Linked DNA regions of Homo sapiens: region 1 is linked to region 2. A link means that fine-mapping ties the variant in region 2 to the expression of a gene that starts in the linked region. Tissue or cell type: whole blood. Region 2 holds a variant in brackets; the other region holds the start of a gene. Each region is shown on its reference strand, or each on the opposite one.

The links. PIP is the estimated chance that this variant, and not a neighbour inherited with it, causes the effect. A credible set is the group of variants that fine-mapping cannot tell apart.
Region 1: FKBP8 starts here. The variant in region 2 is the best candidate, but not a certain one, in a credible set for the expression of FKBP8 in whole blood (TOPMed, PIP 0.53).

Annotation. Positions count from the first base shown.
Region 1 is chr19:18,540,567-18,545,941 of GRCh38, reverse strand. FKBP8 (FKBP prolyl isomerase 8) reads left to right here and starts at 2,369. Exons shown (of 9, transcript NM_012181.5): 1 at 2,369-2,456; 2 at 3,947-4,263. The coding sequence starts at 3,972. RefSeq lists a silencer at 2,124-2,553 and an enhancer at 4,116-4,616.
Region 2 is chr17:35,544,088-35,549,462 of GRCh38, reverse strand. It overlaps SLFN14 (schlafen family member 14), which reads left to right. Exons shown (of 6, transcript NM_001129820.2): 6 at 390-5,375. The coding sequence ends at 1,224. Among named protein-coding and RNA genes, the nearest start is that of SLFN12L, 9.1 kb to the right of the region's middle. The variant A/T (reference allele first, on the strand shown) is at 2,170.

The DNA of each region.
Region 1 (5,375 bases), not on the chromosome of region 2:
CAGAGGTAAATCAAAGCAGTGGCTCACGCCTATAATCCCAACAGTTTGGGAGGCCAAAGTGGGAGGATTGCTTGAGCCCAGGAGTTCGAGACCAGCCTGGGCAACATGGGGAAACCCCATCTCTACAAAAAATATAAACATTGGGCCGGGCGCGATGGCTCACGCCTGTAATTTCAGCACTTTGGGAGGCCGAGGTGGGCAGATCACAAGGTCAGGAGATCGAGACTATCCTGGCTAACACGATGAAACGCTGACTCTACTAAAAATACAAAAAATTAGTCGGGCATGGTGGCAGGCGCCTGTAGTCCCAGCTACTTGGGAGGCTGAGGCAGGAGAATGGTGTGAACCTGGGAGGCGGAGCTTGCAGTGAGCCGAGATTGCGCCACTGCACTCTAGCCTGGGCTACACAGCGAGACTCTGTCTCAAAAAAAAAAAAAAAAATTAGCTGGACATGATGGTGCACCTGTGGGCCCAGCTACTCAGGAGGCTGAGGCAGGAGGATTGCGTGAGCCCAGGAGATAGACATGGTTGCAGTGATCTGAGATCGTGCCACTGCACTCCAGCCTGGGTTTCAAAGTAAGACCCTATCTCAAAAAAAAAAAGGCAGAGATATAAGTAAACTAGTTTGGGAAGCCGAGGCAGGCAGATCATGAGGTCAGGAGTTCCAGACCATCCTGGCCAACATGGTGAAACCCTGTCTCTACTAAAAATATACAAATTAGCTGGGCATGGTGGCGGGTGCCTGTAGTCCCAGCTACTCAGGAGGCTGAAGCAGGAGAATCGTTGGAACTTAGGAGGTGGATGTTGCAGTGAGCCGAGATCGCGCCACTGCACTCCAGCCTGGCGACAGAGAGAGACTCTGTCTCAAAAAAAAAAGAGAAAGAAAAAAAAAAAAAAGGCCAGGCACGATGGCTCATGCCTGTAATCTTTGGTACATCGAGGTGGGCGGATCACGTGAGGTCGGGAGTTTGAGACCAGCCTGACCAACATGAAGAAATCCCGTGTCTACTAAAAATACAAAGTTAGCCAGGCATGGTGGTGCATGCCTCTACTCCCAGCTACTTGGAAGGCTGAGGCAGGAGAATCGCTTGAACCTGGGAGGCAGCGGTTGCGGTGAGCTGAGATTGCGCCATTGCACTCCAGCTTGGGCAACAAGAGTGAAACTTCTTCTCAAAAAACAAAAACAAACAAACAAACAAAAAACCCAAGTAAACTAGTTATGAAGTGGACGTTCATCAACTTCATTGTGCCAAGACAGCTAAAGGGGGCACCTGGTCTTGCCTTGGGGAGGTTGGGAGGGCTTCCTGTAGGAGGTAACCTGGGAACTCCAACCTTAGAAGTGATCTCCAAAAAGCCAGTTACCACCTCCATGATAGCTACCTCCAAAAGCTGGTGTCTGACTCATCCATCCATCCATCCATCCATCCATCCATCCATCCATCCACCTACCCATTTATTGAGCTTCTATAGATGCCAGGCATGGTTCAAGGAGGTGCTGGGTACAAATCAGGTAAAAATCTCTGCCAGGATGAAGCAGAGTGAGGGATGGTCCCTCCAACCACAAGCAAAATAATGACAAGATAATTCTGGAAGGAGTAACTGCTAGGAAGGAAATAAAACTGAGTGAAGGAGGGAGAAGTGTCCCGGTTTCAAAACAAGATCCACAAAAACTTAGCTAATCAAGGATGCCACCTTCTTCCCGAGCCATGGGGACCTTATCACCCTCCAGCAGACAGTGCATAGAGGAGGAACTCCTCCCAGTGGCCCTGCTGGCTCAGTCGCCTGCGCAGCAGTAATCGAGCGCCTCCAGTATGCACCAGGCAACCTTCTAGACATTAAACTGTGTGGGGGATGGGAGGGAGGTTTCTGTATGCCTTTGGGCACGTCACTCCTCCTCAGGCCCTCAGGTTCACTTCTGTAACTAAGGCTTCAGGATGGGTCATTCAGCAACCCCAGAGCTGCCCTGCCCGTCAAGCTTGAACTCTTTAAGGAAATAACATTTAGAGTGGACTGTGCCCCCAGCAGCCCCCAAGGTGAGAGTGCATAGATGGGGGTGTTTATCCCCATTTCGCAGATGGTCAGGATGAAGCTCAGAGGAGAGGCAGGAGTCGCACAGGCTGCGCGATACTGACCCGTGTTGGGGTCCAGCCCAGGGTCCCCCGCCCCCGCCCCAGCCCCCGCCCCAGCCCCCGCCCCAGCCCCCGCCCCAGCCCCAGCAGCCGGGAGGCTTCGGTCCCTTTAAGAACGCCCCGCGGGGCCAAGCAGGAAGGGGGAGGTGCCAACGCCCGGGACGGACGTCTGCATGAGCCAACGGGTGCGGCAGTCGCGGCAGCGGCGGCCAATGGGCACGGCAGGGGCGGGGCCAAGCGGCCGAACCTGGTTCCCGAGGCGCGGCGGCCGCGGCTGGGGGCGGGGAGGGGGGCGCAGGACCCCAAGTGGGGGTCCCGGAGCCAGAGGCAAGTGTCCTGGGGTGCTGGGGGCGCCGTGCCGGCCGGGCCGCTGCCCTGGCCTAGGCTGGTCCGGGGGCTAGCGCGCCGGGGGCTGCGGCCGATGGGCGGGGCGAGGGGCCGCGGGGGTGGCGAGCCGGGGGGGCACGGGGGTCGGGGGTGCCCGAGGGGGCGCGGCCGGGCGGGGGTGGCCAGGGATGGGGGTCACTGGGGGCAAAGGGGATCCAGTGGGGGGGTCCCGATGGAGGCGTGCAGGGCCAGGGGCGCCCGAGGCGTGCGGGGGTCGGGTGCCCCAGACTGGTGGCGTCAGACAGGCGTGGGTCGTTGGGGGCCTGGGTCGCGGCTTGACTGAGGGCCCGGCCGGGGCTGTGGGGCGTCAGGAGAGCGTGGGGTGTTATGGGATCGGAAAGGGGGGGGCGTCTGGGGACACTGGAGTGTTTACGGCGAGACGGAGCGGCTGTGGGGGGAGCTGGCCCGTGCTGGGGGCGGTGGTGGTTGGGGTGGGGGGTGGGAGGGGAGGCCGAATTGTGCGGGCGCGGGGAATTATGGGGGTGGGGGCTGGGAGGGTCTCTCAAAGTGGGGCTCCGAGCCCGGGAGGAGCAGGCAGGTGAGGGTTAGGGAGGGGATGCGGCGGGCTGGTTTGATGGCTGTGCCACACTCTTCTGAGCTTGGGGCCTGGGGGACGGAGGGGTTGGTTATTGGTTCAGGAGGTCTGGGGCAAGGAAGAGGCTGTAGAATGTGGTGGGACCTCGACCACTCCTGGAAAGGAGGCTGCTTTGAGGGGGTGGGACCGAGGCCTGATGAGAGGAGGATGGTCTCCTGGGGAAGGATTTGGGCCAGGGTCCCTGATGTTGGGGTTGTGGGGGATAGTGTTAGATTCAGAGTGTGGAAGGAAAAAACGCTTGGGGTTTCTGGGTGATTACAGTTGGTGCTTTTGGGGAGGGTCTCCCCTTTGGAGAAGAGGCTGGAGGTGGGAGGCCCTGGTAAAAGATTCAATTTCCCCCAGTGGCCTTAGAGGCTCTAAAAATGGCTTCCCTAAGGCCTCGGAGGCTGTCCTCTCCACAAAAATCCCAGCACCCTTCGCTCAGCTTATAATCAGGCAAAGCCACAGGGCCTGAAGCCCCAGGTTCAAATCCTCCTTTGGCCTTTGGCTTTCTCTGTGACCTTGGGCAAATGCCTTTGCCCCTCTGGCCTGTTTCCTGTTCTGCAAAATGTTGAGGGGAATCTTCCCTACTTCCTGGAGTATTTGTAAACATTAAATAATAATTAGCTCTAATAATGGCTAACACTATTTGAGCCTGATGCCAAGGGCTTGATGCATGGGTTAATTTCTCCCAACAAGCTGGGGTTGTTGTTACACCCACTGTATAGATGAGGAAACTGAGGCCTGGAGCCCTTGAGTTACACAGAAAGTGATCGGCAGTGTGGGGAATCAGTACAGTGGAGACTTTGAGGGGCTGTGTAGGATTCTGACCCACATCTCTGCCCCCCACTTCCAGGGCCAATTCCTGTCCCCCCAGCAGCATGGCATCGTGTGCTGAACCCTCTGAGCCCTCTGCCCCACTGCCCGCCGGGGTCCCACCGCTCGAGGACTTCGAGGTACTGGATGGGGTTGAGGATGCAGAGGGTGAGGAGGAAGAGGAGGAGGAAGAGGAGGAAGAGGATGACCTGAGTGAGCTGCCACCGCTGGAGGACATGGGACAACCCCCGGCGGAGGAGGCTGAGCAGCCTGGGGCCCTGGCCCGAGAGTTCCTTGCTGCCATGGAGCCCGAGCCCGCCCCAGCCCCGGCCCCAGAAGAGTGGCTGGACATTCTGGGTAAGGAGCAAAGGTGGATCAGGGTGCCCTTGGCCCTGGCCCTCTCGTCCCCTGAGCCTCATTTCCCCATCTGTGCTGTGAGGGTTGGAAGTCACGTGGTCACCACCGTGATCACCAGCCAGAGGCAACTACTGGAGATGCTTCACATTGATGTACTCTATCCACTGACTCACACACATGCACAATGTGCTGTGTCCCCGTTTCCCAGATCTGCTAACAGTGGCTCAGAGAGGCTGAGTCACCTGCCCAGAGCCACACAGCCAGCACGCCAGGCGCTGGCAGCTCCTAACCCCATCAATGCATCTTTTTTTGGCATTTGTCTGACACATGCTTGGGCTCTGAAAAATGTGTCCTGAGTGCACGCCAGCCTGGGCAACACAGCGAGACCCCAACTTCCAAAACAAAAAATGTGTTCTGGGGTCAAGTGGATCAGAGGAATGTTATTTTGTTCAGCCTTCTGGTTGGTTCACAGTAGTGATAGTATTGTAAATGCTCAGAGCAATCCTACAAGAAGAAAACTACATGAGCCCCCACATGTTCCCCCCAACATACCCCATCACAGCAACTGAAAACAAGAGAAATGTTAGTTTTCTGTGGAAGACGTCTTGCTACTAGTATAGTACTGATATCTAATATACCAAATAATGCTGGTGCCCATGCAAATAATAAGATATCATTACCACTATCAATTGTAATAACAATACTGTAGCAATAGTTTCCAATCATATTGACACTGATGGAACAGAAATATTACTAAATATCACCACCACTACTGATAAAAATCTTACTACTTTTTTTTTTTTTTTTGAGACAGAGTCTGACTCTGTCACCCAGGTTGGAATGCAGTGGTGCGATCTCAGTTCACTGCAACCTCCGCCTCCCAGGTTCAAGCGATTCTTCTGCCTCAGCCTCCTGAGTAGCTGGGACTACAGGTGCCCACCTCTATGCCTGGCTGATTTTTGTATTTTTAGTAGAGACAGGGTTTCACCACATTGGCCAGGCTGGTCTCGAACTCCTGACCTCAGGTGATCCACCTGCCTTGGCCTCCTAAAGTGCTGAGATTACAGGTGTGAGCCAGCACACCTGGCCCCTAATTTTTGTATTTTTAGTGG
Region 2 (5,375 bases):
CCAGCTCTAAAGAGGATAGAAAGTAAAGAAATGGTAGTAAGAAGTGTAAGTTAACTTTGAGATTTCCTTTAGATGTAATGAACTTGTCTTCAGGATTGCCAAACAGTAGGAATGGATTACTAATAGACATAATACAATCTGTTACCTGGGTTCATTTCAGAAGTTTCACATGCAGGTTTAACTGGATAACCCCAAAGAGCAAGGTGTAAAATTATGCATTCTGTCTGTCAGGTAACTTGTAATTAGAACAGTTTTGTGGTATTCACACTACTGAATCAATGACTCAGCCTGCAGATGAGAATCAGCCTCTGATTCCATTCCAGAGAGTAATGACTGCTGGTGTTCTCTTTGTTGATATGCCTCAAGCCCTGTTTTTTCCGTCCTTACAGCCAACAAACCACCTGCCAAGCTGTGACCAGGAAAACTTTCATGCAAGGGGAGTTTCTAAAGATTAAACACATAGTGATGGATGAGACTGAGAATTTCTGCAGCAAATATGGCAATTGGTACATGAAGGCTAAGAACATCACCCATCCAAAGGCGAAGGGGACTGGAAGTGAAAACCTTCACCATGGGATTCTCTGGCTTTTTCTTGACCCTTTTCAAATCCATCACGCAGATGTCAATGGCCTTCCCCCTCCATCTGCTCAGTTTCCTCGAAAAACAATCACCAGTGGGATCCACTGTGCTCTGGAAATAGCGAAGGTTATGAAAGAAGAAATGAAGAGGATCAAAGAAAATCCTCCCTCCAACATGTCTCCAGACACATTAGCATTGTTCAGCGAGACTGCCTATGAGGAAGCAACGTGTGCCCAGGCTCTGCCTGGGGTGTGTGAGACAAAGACTAATCTGACAACAGAACAAATAGCTAACTATGTGGCAAGAAAATGTCACAGCCTGTTCCAGTGTGGCTATCTGCCCAAAGATATAGCAATTCTGTGCAGGAGAGGGGAGGACAGAGGACGCTATAGGCTTGCACTACTCAAAGCAATGGAATTAATTGAGACCCACAGACCATCAGAGGTTGTGTTTAGCCCGGCCACCGGTGTTTGGGGAAGTCACATTGTTTTAGACAGTATTCAGCAATTTTCAGGCCTGGAGAGGACTGTCGTGTTTGGGCTTAGTCCAGAATGTGACCAGTCAGAGGAATTTCATAAGCTCTGCTTTGCTTCAAGAGCCATTAAACACCTCTACCTGCTTTATGAAAAGAGGGCAGCCTACTGAAAATTATTACAAATAATAGAGGAAGACAGGAAGAGCAGAGTCCTTTCTCCTAGACAGGTAGCAGTGACTCCATTTTAATATTACAAGTGAGGAAATCAAGGCACATCAGTATGGCCTGGAGCCACAGAAATGTCTCTTGGAGCTGAGCCTTCCACTCTATTTCAATGCCACTGGCCTTTTCACAATTTCCTTCACCTCCTACCTATACAATTACAATAGACTTCATTAGTCCCCTGTCTCCAGCTTTCCCACTCAATCCAGCTGTCATCCATCAGAGAATTTTTCCTCAAATAGAGAACTGATTTTATGTAATACCTTGCTAACATATCTTCAATGAGTCCCCACAGCCTTCAAACCTAACCAATTTTCAAGGCTTTCATTAATATGCCCTGACTTGCTCTCCCAACCACATCCTTTATTGTATCTCCATCTCCCCATGTTTCTCATGCACCCCAGCCCACCTGGCATAATTTTTGGGTGGTGGTATGGTGCCCTCCAGGCTGGTTACTTTGACTGCATAGGTCTCAAAAGTAGCCAATTGACTGGCACCTCATACTGGCTATGGGTCTCAAGCTTTCCAGGTCCAGAACTTGATTGCCTTTTTGTACCAAGTCTAGATCAGTCTCTTGGGGATGCTTTATGCTAATCAAGCTCACAAAGGACCAATGCATACATCAAAATGTTACTCTGTTAATTTATAGTGAGGACCATAGTCATAAGTGGGTCAAATGCTTTTGCTAATCAGTGCCCTCAACAGTAATATAGGAAGCCAAATTATATGAACATAGCCTTACAGTAAGGGAAGCTGGTAATTTGATTCAAATCTTAAAAATCTTCAGATTATATTAGACTATTGCAATATCTATTAGGTTGGTGCAAAAGTGCAAAAGCCACAATTACTTTTGCACCAACTTAATATAAAATAAGATTGCAATAATTTCTAAA[A/T]TAAAGATATTTCTATCACAAGGACTAGACAAATTAGTTTACAGTTTACAAGCTAAAGCAAATTTAGAATGCTAAGGATGACTAGTTTTTCATTATTCTTTGCCCTCAGATGAATTTTTTTTTCTCTGTCTTGGTTTCTAAAATTTCCAGGTTCACCACCAACCCTCTCCTTACTGCCCCCAACATATACAAATTTTGCCTACATTTATCCTCTATGTATGTGAATACATTCATGTAGGCTAGAAATGCCTTATACTCTGCCGCTGGCCTGGAAAGTAGTCTTCCTACAAGGGGCCTTTGCACATCTCTGATTTCTTCCATTATGACTTGGTGCTAATTTTTAAATCCAACTCTCAGAGTTTATGGGGATCCTTGGTGGCAACTTTACCACCAACACCACCCACACACATCCCCGACTCCTGGTCTGTGCCTGTGCCATTTTCTCAGTCTTTAAACCCTTTTCTGTCCCCTCCACCTTTGAAATCCTTACTTGGCAATCACATCCTTTTTCAAATGCCTACTACCTCAATTAAACTTTTATTATCTCCCTAAGTGAAACTTTCCAATGTATATGATACATATTAGAAATGAAATCAAAGTTCCCCTTTTCTAGTCAGTTCCCCAAATGGCTGAGCCAATTCTGTACTCTTCAAATTACTCTTGCTTTTGCAAGGATTTTTAAATTGCTTTGGAAGTATTCATATTTCCAAACTGTTTTTAACTTCTAGAAAAGTTTAGGATAACTTGATTGACTCTGGGGAGGCTTGAATCCAGGAGACATGTGGAAATTTTGGTTATGATTTTAGATAAAGCCCCTCAGCCTTCCAAGAGGTGGAAGAGCAGGCAGGGTTTCGAGAAGCTCTCTTAGCTGCCTTTCTGAATTGCTTAGGCCCATTAGAAGGGCTAGTCTGTACCTAGGCACGGGTTGAAAAGAAAAACCTCTCCCTTGCTTCCTACTGCTCTAATTACCTGGTGTTTCTTCCTTTTTACCTTTCCTTGGGGGCTTTAGGGTAGTTTTGGATAGGAGGAAATGAAGTTCAGCAATCGGTTTTGCAAAAGATGCCAGTGCATTGACATTCTGATGTAGGGAGATGTATGAATTCTATAAAAATAATTTAAACAGTCAAAGTCAACAGAGTATGAAGGAGTATGAGTGGGACAAGGAATTGCTATATTTTAGTCATAAGCCTTAGTACCATTTGACTTTTTAAAATATATGCATGCATCATATAATTTTTAATAAAAGAATTGATTTGTAAAGAATTGTTTTAAATATTGAATTTGAGAGTCTTTGTCAGTTCTTAGTCTAGTGAAACAATTCAATCAGGATGAAAGTAGAATAACTAACTCAGTGATTCTCAACCCTGGATGCTCATTATAATTTCCTGGGCGACTTAAAAAAAATCAGTGATCAGGCCAGACACCAGACTAATTAACCTCAGTGTGTCTGAACACAGGCTCGGGCATCGGTATTTATTAAATGTTGTCCAGGCAGGGTGCAGTGGCTGGTGCCTGTAATACCAGAACTTTGAGAGGCTGAGGTCTGGGGGAATCACTTGAAGCCAGGAGTTGGAGACCAGCCTGGGCAACATAACAAGACCCCATCTCTACAAAAAAAATTTTTTTAAAAACTTAGTTGGGCATGGTGGTGCATGCTTTTAATCCTAGCTACTCCAGAGGCCAAGGTGGGAGGATCACTTGAGCCCAGGAGTTTGAGGCTACAGTGACCTATGATTACTCCACTGCACTCCAGCCTGGGTTACAGAGCAAGACTCTATCTCTTAAAAAAAATCCAAATGATTCTAATATGTCACAAGGGTTGAGAACCATTGAACCCTTCTCCTAGTCTGTTCTTTCTGTCCTCAAAAAATGTGTGCACATTTCTCTTCCTATTAAGACTGTGAGCTCCTTGAGAGTAAGAGGATGAGTCACTTACACATCCTTATTTCCCCTAGAGCAACTAGTACAGTGCCTCACACAGGGCAGGTGCTCAGTAAATATTTGCTGAATTGTACTTGTAGCTTTTAGAAAACTAGAATCTACAATGATTCAATTCGATAGTATGAATTTCTAATGTTAGAGATTTCAAAGAAGTCAGTGTGGAGAATAATCTTTAACACTGTAATAATGAAGAATAAGGGAACAATAAAGGCAACTCAATTGTTTTTAGGCAACAGGTCAAATTAAGGATCTATGATGATAGTTCATTAGATTCAAATGTAAGATTAGGAACTGGTGGGGACTAAGAATAATGGACTAACTTGGTTGTTTTAGAATTCTCAATGTTTTCTACAAAGTCTTAATATGATGGATAAAGCAATTAACTAAATGAAATAACTAAGATAAAAGAGAAGCTTTAGAAACTGTGAGAAGCTTCTAAAACTTACTTTTAAAAAGAAGGGTAATATAATATTATCATGGAAGCTTCGGAAATGGAGAAAGGCAAAATTAAAAGTTCTTAAATCAGGCTGGGCGCAGGGGCTCATGCTGGTAATCCTAGCACTTTGGGAGGCTGAGGTGGGTGAATCACCTGAGGTCAGGAGTTCAAGACCAGCCTGACCAACATGGAGAAACCCTGTCTCCACTAAAAATACAAAATTAGCTGGGCATGGTGGCGCATGCCTGTAATCCCAGCTACTTGGGAGGCTGAGGCAGGAGAATTGCTTGAACCTGGGAGGTGGAGGTTGCAGTGAGCTGAGATTGCGCCACTGCACTTCAGCCTGGGCAACAAGAGTGAAACTCTGTCTCAAAAAAAAAAAAAAAAAGTTCTTAAATCATCTTGTTATCTGGGTGTAACATTTTTTCATTTTTGCTTATTTATTTCTATTCTTTGTTGATATGGAAAAATATTTTCACACAGTTATGATCAAGTTGTGCCATCAACTTTATAACGTATATGTGTGCTTTTTCCATTTAATTGTTTTGTGAGATATTGCTATAGACTACATTATTGTTCCCAATATTTCCTACCTCTCTATATCTATACCCTTTGTAGTTACTAACATTAGAGGTAGAGATATTTTCCACCCCTGTAATGTGGCCTTGGTCATGTGACTTGGAATGTTAGTAGTTCTGATGTGCACAGAGGCTGTACATGGACTTTCAGCATTGGGTTTACTCTCTCGGGTTTCTGCTGTTTCCATACAAAGAATGTACCCTGGGTGGCCCACCAGCCACTGAGATATGTGAATCCAACTTGAACTCAA